Linked DNA regions of Homo sapiens. The protein of the gene in region 2 purifies or fractionates together with the protein of the main gene of each other region. This does not show direct contact. Each region holds a gene or a part of one and is shown on either strand. Other genes may lie near its edges.

The links.
Region 1: the proteins of SMIM20 (region 2) and ACKR5 purify together in Homo sapiens (co-immunoprecipitation; one large-scale study listed by IntAct). This does not show direct contact.

The regions. Positions count from the first base shown.
Region 1 is NC_000012.12:56,993,237-56,997,291, reverse strand, and holds the start of ACKR5 (G-protein coupled receptor 182), read right to left. Parts: upstream 2,801-4,055; 5' UTR 2,644-2,800; intron 2,099-2,643; 5' UTR 2,083-2,098; coding exon 868-2,082; 3' UTR 1-867. UniProt on the Homo sapiens protein: Orphan receptor.
Region 2 is NC_000004.12:25,923,604-25,927,976, reverse strand, and holds part of SMIM20 (small integral membrane protein 20), read right to left. Parts: intron 1-4,373.

The sequences.
Region 1 (4,055 bases), on a different chromosome or scaffold from region 2:
TTGATACTTTCCTATGATCTGGAGAGAAAGAGATGGGGGTGGGTTGGGCTTTCTGGTAGCTCTGTGTCTCCCTAGAAGTCTGGAAGTTTCCTAGATCCGAAGCTGGTAAGAGGTCAGCTATGAGGAGCTGACTCTGGGACAACTCCTCTTGCTTGTGGGGAGGGAGCAGGATGGACAACGGGGAGGGGAGGGTGTCAGCAAGGAAATGGAGCTGTGTTTCCTGGATGGCCGCGGGTGGAGATACCATCCTGCTGACCCAGCTGCAGGGTGCAGGTCTCAGACCTTGGCTTCGCCCCCACCCCTGCCATCCCCATCCGCCTTCACTTATCATGGCTGTGCATAGGATGCACAGCTAGGGAACGTCCTGCTGGGGCCGCCTGGTTCCTTGGCCTCTGGCCTCTTGTCCCCATAACCTGCATAGTGAGCTGGAAGATCAACAAGCTCACAAACGCAAAAGGAGTTTTGTGAGGTTCCTGCAGAGTTCACTGTTTCCAGCCAGAGTGATTTATGAAATGAATGTGTCTAGTTTCCTCTGCCGAGCACCTCTTTAGCCTCAGCTCCCTTCCCAATCCCAGCTGGAAGTGCAGATTTTTAAAAGATCCAGAGTCCATGGCTATCTCTTCCATTTATTTCACCTTTTTTTCTGCATTGCTCCTTAGACACAAGGACCGAGACAAATAGTACAACACTGAGGGCCTGCTCTCTATCGCTCCTGATCCTGTCTCTCTCTCCACACCTCAGTATTTTAAGATAGATTCAAAATTGACCACGAGTGCTTTGACCCTCCCCTCTACATCCCCCCAAATCTCCCACCTATACTCTCACCTGTGCCTTTTCCTTCACTGTTGGAGGAGTCTGGCCTCTACCTCAGCTGGGTGTAAGAGGCTGAGTGGGAGAGATGGGGGAAGTATTTGGAAGCAAATGGTGTGCCTGAAAGCTCAGGCTTGGCTCAGGGTGGGGGGCTGCTGCAGCAGGCTGGCTATCACCCTTGGTGATGATGATGGAATGCTGGGTGGAACAGGAGGAAGAGGAGGCGCATGTGCCCGCCTTGGTCTGGTCCTTAGGAAGGTAATGGACTACAGCATTCAGGAGCCGGCCCCGGAAGTGTGGGCTGAGAAAGTTGTAAAGGATGGGGTTGATGACACAGTGCAGCATGGAGAAGCAGTCAATGACATCATAGAAGAAGTAGAGCAGGTGGACCAGGTGGCAGTGGAGGGAGATGTGGGTCCCATGCAGTGTGAGCAGCAGCAGGGTCACATGATAGGGCAGCCAGCACATGACAAAGACGGCCACGTAGGCGCACAGCAGCAGGCAGTGGCGCCGGCTCTTGGGTTGTCCTGGCTGCCGCAGCCGGCAGGCTGTCAGCACATTGAAGACTGTGATGAGAGGGAAGGGCAGCAGGAAGCCCAGGATGGTGGTGGACAGGGCCACCGCCAGGGCCCAGGTGCTGTACGTTTCAAAAGGTGCCATGAAGAGGCACATGGGCTCAGGGCCCTCCACCAGCTGGATGTGGACCACCTCAGGCAGCGGGATGATGGCCGAGAGGACCCAGATGCCTGCACACATGGCCCGCCGCACTCGGTGCTGGTAACGCTGCCAGGAGGGGGAGGCGCTGGTGAGGGTGACATAGCGGTCGACACTGAGGCACACCAGGAAGAAGATGCTGCTATACATGTTGACAAAGTAGAAGTAGTGAGTGAAGCGGCAGGAGAAGCTGCCCCAGAGCCAGGTGTAGTCCAGCGTGACCTCCAGCATCCACACGGGCAGAGACAGGACAATGCCCAGGTCCGCGATGGCCATGTTGAGGATGTAGAGGTTCATCAGCCCTGCCCGGCCTGAGCCGCGCCAGTTGACGCATATCACCAGGAGGTTCTCCACCAGCCCAACCACAAACATGGCCAGGTAGAGGGCAAAGAGGACCACGCGCTTGGTGCTCTGGCTGAGCTCCACGTGGCACTCAGACAAAGTGTGGTTGAAGAGGTCAAGCAGCTCGGTCCAGTTGTGGATCTCTCCAAGGTCACTGGTAGGCACTGCGGTGACCCCCTCCGAGGGGCCAGGCCCCCAGCTGGGTTTCACTGACATTGGGACCAGCACACGCCTATTGGGATGAAGGGAGGGTTGGAAGGGAAAGCAGACCTCGAGAGCCTTGTGTCCTCAAGGTAGAGGCCAGAGGGAGTCGGGGGCTTTGGGGAAAGATTCTGGGGCTAAGGCAAGAAAGGGAAGTTTAGCTTTCAAACTGTGAATAAATAATACACAACTCACTTGCTAGCTCTGACCCAAGAGCAGAGATACTTTCTTAAGGGGTTTCAGCTGGAAGAGGCCAGGACTGTTGGTGTCCACCAACATTTCTCCCCACCCCCAGCCAGTTCCCCCTCAACAACCCCCTCAATCCCCCCACACCCACCATTCCTAGGTGGTCTCCAACCTCCACCTCTCTCCTGGCACTTCATTCCTCAGCCCTTTTGCACAGATCTTTATTGCTCTTTTTCTGTCTTGTTATTTGGACCGTGAGTGTGGAACACACACACACACACGCACACCACACAATCTGATTCATCCCTAGGAAAACCTGTGGATCATGCAGGATAGCCAGTTGTCTCCAAGCCCTGATTCCCATCTTCCCTGGGAGAGGGCGACACTCACCTGAGTTTCCCTTGGGAGCCCCTCGGTCCTGGAGGGAGGGCCGGCAGGTCCAGGCTATGGGGAGCTGTGAGGAGGCTGGGGGGCCCTTGGCTGTGGGGCTGGCTTCCCTGCTGGCTTCACGGCCGCCCTTCTCATCCGGGAAGTAGCTGTCACTGCTGAGGCTCTGTAGGGAGGGATGGGGTTTTTCCTGCATTCCCCCAATCCGGTTACAGGGGATGTCCCAGCAAAAGACCCGGTGTGCCAGTGGCGGGGAGGTCATACTGCCAGCATTAAAATCCCAGCTCCTCCCTCACCCGCTGAATGAATTTACCTCTTTCCTCAGCCTCAGTGCTCTCCTCTGCAAAGTGGGGTCTATTATCTACTAAAAGGGATGCTTTGAGAATTAAAGGAGCTGTTGAGGGAGGGAAAGTGCTTAGCTCAGGTGGGGCCTGTGGCAAATGCTTTACGTATGTATGTATTTTCCTCTCCCTAAGTCAGCTTGGAATCCCTCTCTCCCCTGTCTTGATTCCTACTAGAGTGAAATTGGATGTGGGGGTATAGGGGAGGGTCAAAATAAATCTGAACATCAGTTGGGCTTTTAATAACTCTGGCCCACCCCTGCCATTCTCCCCAGCCCCTCACAGGGCTGTGAGCTCCCTGCCTTCATCTTGTGATTGGAGGTGAGAATCTGGGAAAGAAAAGATTGAATGGCTGGGCATGGTGGCTCACGCCTGTAATTCCAGCATTTTGAGAGGCTGAGGCAGGAGAATCGCTTGAGCCCAGGAGGCGGAGGTTGCAGTGAGCTGAGATCAGGTCACTGCACTCCAGCCTAGGTGACAGAGTTAATAAAAAAAAATAAAAATAAGATTGAATGCGGGGTGTCAAGGGGGCTTTGTCAAAGCTTCAGGGAGATTCCTGAGTAGGGAGGGAGAGAGAGAATGGCGCCCTCCCCCTGTGGCTCTATACTTCTCTGCGTGAAGGGTGTGGTGGGTGGCTGGCAGGGGATGAGCAGGGGATGGGGCGTGGGGTAGGGAGAGCAGACTTCTCTCTCCCGCCAAGCTAGAGGGTAAGGGACTCTAAGCCACGTGTTATGGGTAAACATTTTGTGTCAGCAGAGCTTCCTGCCCTTCAGAGCGCTTTCACCTCACTTCATCTCGTTGGATTCTGGAGATACCCCTGTGGGGAGGATGGATTTCTTCACCCTCTTTGAGGCCCAGAGAAGTTGTCTGTTACACAAGCCACACTTGGCAGATGGCAGAGTGGCCTAGGCCTGAGCCAAAGGTGTGTCGGCTGGACGGGATTGAGTATATATTAAGTCGAGGTGAAATTCCCATAGCATAAAATTAACCATTTTAAAATGTGTGATTTAATGGCATTTAGACATGCACATTGTGCAAACACCACCTCTGTCTACGTGCTAAACATCTTCATTA
Region 2 (4,373 bases):
GAGGGGAAAGCTGCTGAATTGAAGGAACAAGTACAATTAAGAAAACGATGTAGTTTATATGTCTAAAATGCACTCCACCAAAGGACTAGACTCAGAGCTAAATATGCTATGTTTTTGATAGGAAATAGAGCAGAAAATTAATCTTTGGGTGGGTGGCTTTGGTTTGGATAATTGAAGCTTCCCTAATTGATTGCAGGTGCTGCGCCAATTAGCACATTGTAGCGACAGCAACTAAGCCAGTCTCTTTGGAGATGTCCAACAGGCAAGGGCCAAGAGAAATTGGGCATTTCATATCTGTGGGCTTGAAGCACTCTGACACATTTTTCTAAGTGGTTTAGAATAAACCCAAGGTCTGTAAAAACAAAGAGTTATTATTTTAAGTATCTTGACAAACAAATGACAGCTTTTCAGGAGAAAGCCTTAGAGCCAAAGGACGTTTACCACTAAATTATAGTAATGAAATGTCATAATCGGACCTTTGTTTTAATCAGGCTGACAGTGTTTCTTTAAATCCACATTTAGCTCTTATTTAGTATCAGGCCATTTTCTTTACTTTGGCCTCTGGATTCTCATAAAGTTACACAAACGTAACGGTACAAGAAACAGGGTTTGGCCAAATCTAATATTCATTGAACTTGCTTCTCTAGTCATGTGACAGAAAGTCAATCCTAAATGACCGACCTGATAGTTTTATCAATACTAAGTTTTGCTGTGGCAAATAAAACACTGGGCAATGGGGATTATGGGAATCCTGATATCCAAGTCTAAGAGGGATGGAGAGAACACATAGGATACTCAGGCCTATTCCAGGCAACAAGCGGCCTGATGGTTTCACTGCTCCTCTCTGAAAAGTAGCGGATGAATGGCAACCAAGATTCTCTCAAGATATATCAAAAGATTTCTTCCATTTAGAGTGGATATTATGGAGCCTCTAAAGTGTTAGACTTTCTGAAATAACACAAAAGGTGTCCTCATTTCTTAAGACATTAAATCATTGTAGAACTGAGCCCCACCATCCTATAGACATGTAAGTCTCAAAGTATGGATGTCTCGAACATGCTCTTGGAAGATACCAACATGTAAAAGCCCACAGTCATCAGTCTTGGCAGGAACAAAAATAGAATTAATTTTCTGTATCTAACTAAAAGGTCTATTTTCTGATACTATGGAAGAGGGAAGATTTGAGTTTTAAAAAATCACTATCAGAAAGCATTCTAGACTTAGAGATTTCATAAAATCAGACATCCTGGTGTACCAAACACATTGTCCAGAGGCAGGTACTGCAAGGCAAAAGAAGCTGGCAGACTGCCAAGCATCAAAGGAAGCTGACTTTTGGTGGCAAGGACCGAATGCCTAATTGGGTTCTAACCTCTTATGATGCAACGGAGAACCAAATGAAAAGAAAGAAATCCCTGTCTTCACACTTTCTTGCTAATTGCTAATGAGGCTGAAGCAAGGCTGAAGATTTATTTTAAATAGACCATAATCTCTTTATAATCCTTGTCCTAATGCAAACACCTCTGTAGTTTGGCTTGGTCAGGAAATTTAAACCACTTTGCTGAGCCAGTTCCTACCAAATGATAACCAGGTATTAGCATCCTATCTACATCCCCTGGTTCTTTAATCCATTAATGTTTTATAAATACTCTAAGGCCAAAGCAGTCTTATGTAAATTCATGATGTAACACAAAGACACTTTATCTGTGAATGCAGAATACTCTAAAAGGAAAACAGAAACGAGTCCCTCACGATTTAGCAGTGCATCTTGATTGAGGTTGACAGTAAGCTTCTATTTCCCTATCTTTGGAAAAGAGCAAATGTATATAAACCTCAGGAAAAGGGAAATGGCAGAAGTCAGGGGTTTAACTATGTAAACAAATCAGGATAAACTTATTACCAATTTCACTAGTGAGCACATTTCTATCAGGAGTGAAATAATTTAAACCCAAATATGGCACACCGGGTTAAAAAACTCCCCACTCCAGTGTCTCAGCAAGCCCGACTCTGCCCCCTGGTGCTAAGGCAGTGGTGTGATTTGTAGTTTTAATTGAGGACGTTATCTCTGGTCCAGGGGCCAAAGTGTATTATTAAAACTAGTAATACATGCAGACCGGCTGATTTTTTGTACGATAGTAAAAGAATCTACCTAATAATGTTGAAGTCTTTAAAAACAAAAACATATCCTTATATTAAATGTCCACACCGGAAAATACATCGACTGTGTGACTTGTTACTTGAACATTCACAACAATGCAAACACTGCAGGATACTCAAGCCCCAGCTCCCTCAGCAGTCTCAGGATTATTCGTTGAGGGTGCTCTAGTGGAGGACCAGCAGACAGAAACCTAAAATAAAAAAGCAAATGAAAGCTGGTGCAAGGTATGACCTTGGGAACCTACCTCCCTATTTCTTCCTGCCAATAAATACTTAAAAGCAACTCTGCCGGGCGCAGTGGCTCACACCTGTAATCCTAGCACTTTGGGAGGCCGAGGCGGGTGGATCACCTGAGGTCAAGAGTTCAAGACCAGCCTGGCCAACGTGACGAAACCCCATCTCTACTAAAAATACAAAAATTAGCCAGGCATGGTGGCGGGCGCCTATAATCCCAGCTACTTGGGAGGCTAAGGCAGGAGAATTGCTTGAACCTGGGGGTCAGAGGTTGTAGTCAGCCAAGATCATGCCACTGCACTCGAGCCTGGGCGCAAGAGCAAAACTCTGTCTCAAAAAAGAAAAATAAAAAAATAAAATAAAATAAAAGCAACTCACAACTTGAATTGTGACAAATGGCAAAATTTGAACGTGGGCTGTATATTCCATACAAGTTGAATATCCCTTATCTGAAATTGGTTGAGAACAGAATTGGTTTGGATTTAGGATTTTTTTCAGATTTTGGAATATTTACATATATATATAACAAGATATCTTGGGGATGGGATCCAAGTCTAAACATTAAATTCATTTGTTTCACATACATCTTATATACATAGACTGAAGATAATTTTATACAATGTTTTTAATAATTTTGTGCATGAAACTAAATTTATATTAAGTACTTATGTGTGGTATTTTCCACTTGTGTCATTTTGGAACTCAAAAAATTCCAGATTTTGGAGCATTTTCCATTTTCAGATTAGAAATGCTCCAACTGTAATAGCACTGTATCAACGTTAAATTTCTTAGATTGGAAAACCGCATTGTGATTACATAAGAGAATGCCCTTGTTCTTCGGAAATACAGGCTGAAGTGTTTAGGAATGAAAGCTCACAATGTCTTTGACCTACTCTCAAATGGTTCAACAAAATAACAGTAATAATTATAATATATAGTACATATAACTATATCTGTATATATGTATGTATCTGTATGTTATATATAGGGGGAGAAAGCAAATGTGGCAAAATGTTAACAACTGGTAAATCAAGGTGAAGGACAATATAGGAATTTACTGCACTGTTCTTGGATCTTTTGTCAGTTTGAGTTTCTTTTGTTTATTTATTTATTTTTTGAGAAAGAGTCTTGCTCTGTCACCCAGGCTGGAGTACAGTGGCGTGATCTCGGCTCACTGCAACCTCTGCCTCCCAGGTTCAAGTGATTCTGCTGCCTCAGCCTCCCCAAGTTTGAGTTTCTTTTTTCACTAACAAAAACCACATAACTGTACAACATGCATACGAAAAGTCCAACACCATTTTGACTCTTCCATGGTGATTATTTCAAAGAAGCTATCTTTTAAAAAGTAGCAAATATAAAATTTTTTTCAAAAGCTTTTCAGTTGCTTTTGTTGCTGCTGTTACCTAGATACATACACCATCTGCCTCTGGGGTATTCCAGAACTGGAGGTTCACTGGTGGTGAGTGTGAACCAGGGGCCAAGGGGAAGCCATATGACCGCAGCAGCAAGTGCAACCCAGTTGGCTGAAGGGGACCAAATGGACGTGGTGACAAGAAAGAACCAGGGACGGAGGGGAAGCCATATGACCACAGGAGCAAGTGTGACCCAGTTGGCTGAAGGGGACCAAGTAGCCACTTGAAGCACTGCACTCCTCCCAACAGTGTCAACAGGTCTGTTTCCTCACCAGAGCCTGGTTGAATCCAGGGAACTGTGTAATGCCAGTTAGAAAACAAGACCCAGTCTGCCTGCGCATTTCATTCGATTATGTGGTGAAAGGACTGAAAAGCATATTCTAAGCACCTGGCATGTCACAAGGAAAATGCCCTGACAAGGTAAGAATTCTTTCTGCATCAGGTGATTTCCAGTACCGTGTGCTGCCTAGGCATAGCCTCCTTTTGGGCAGGGGCAGCAAGGTGCAGCGGAAATCAACAGGACTGAGAAGCAGCAGAACTGAGGTCTCACAGCTCTCCCCTGTGGCCTTTCAC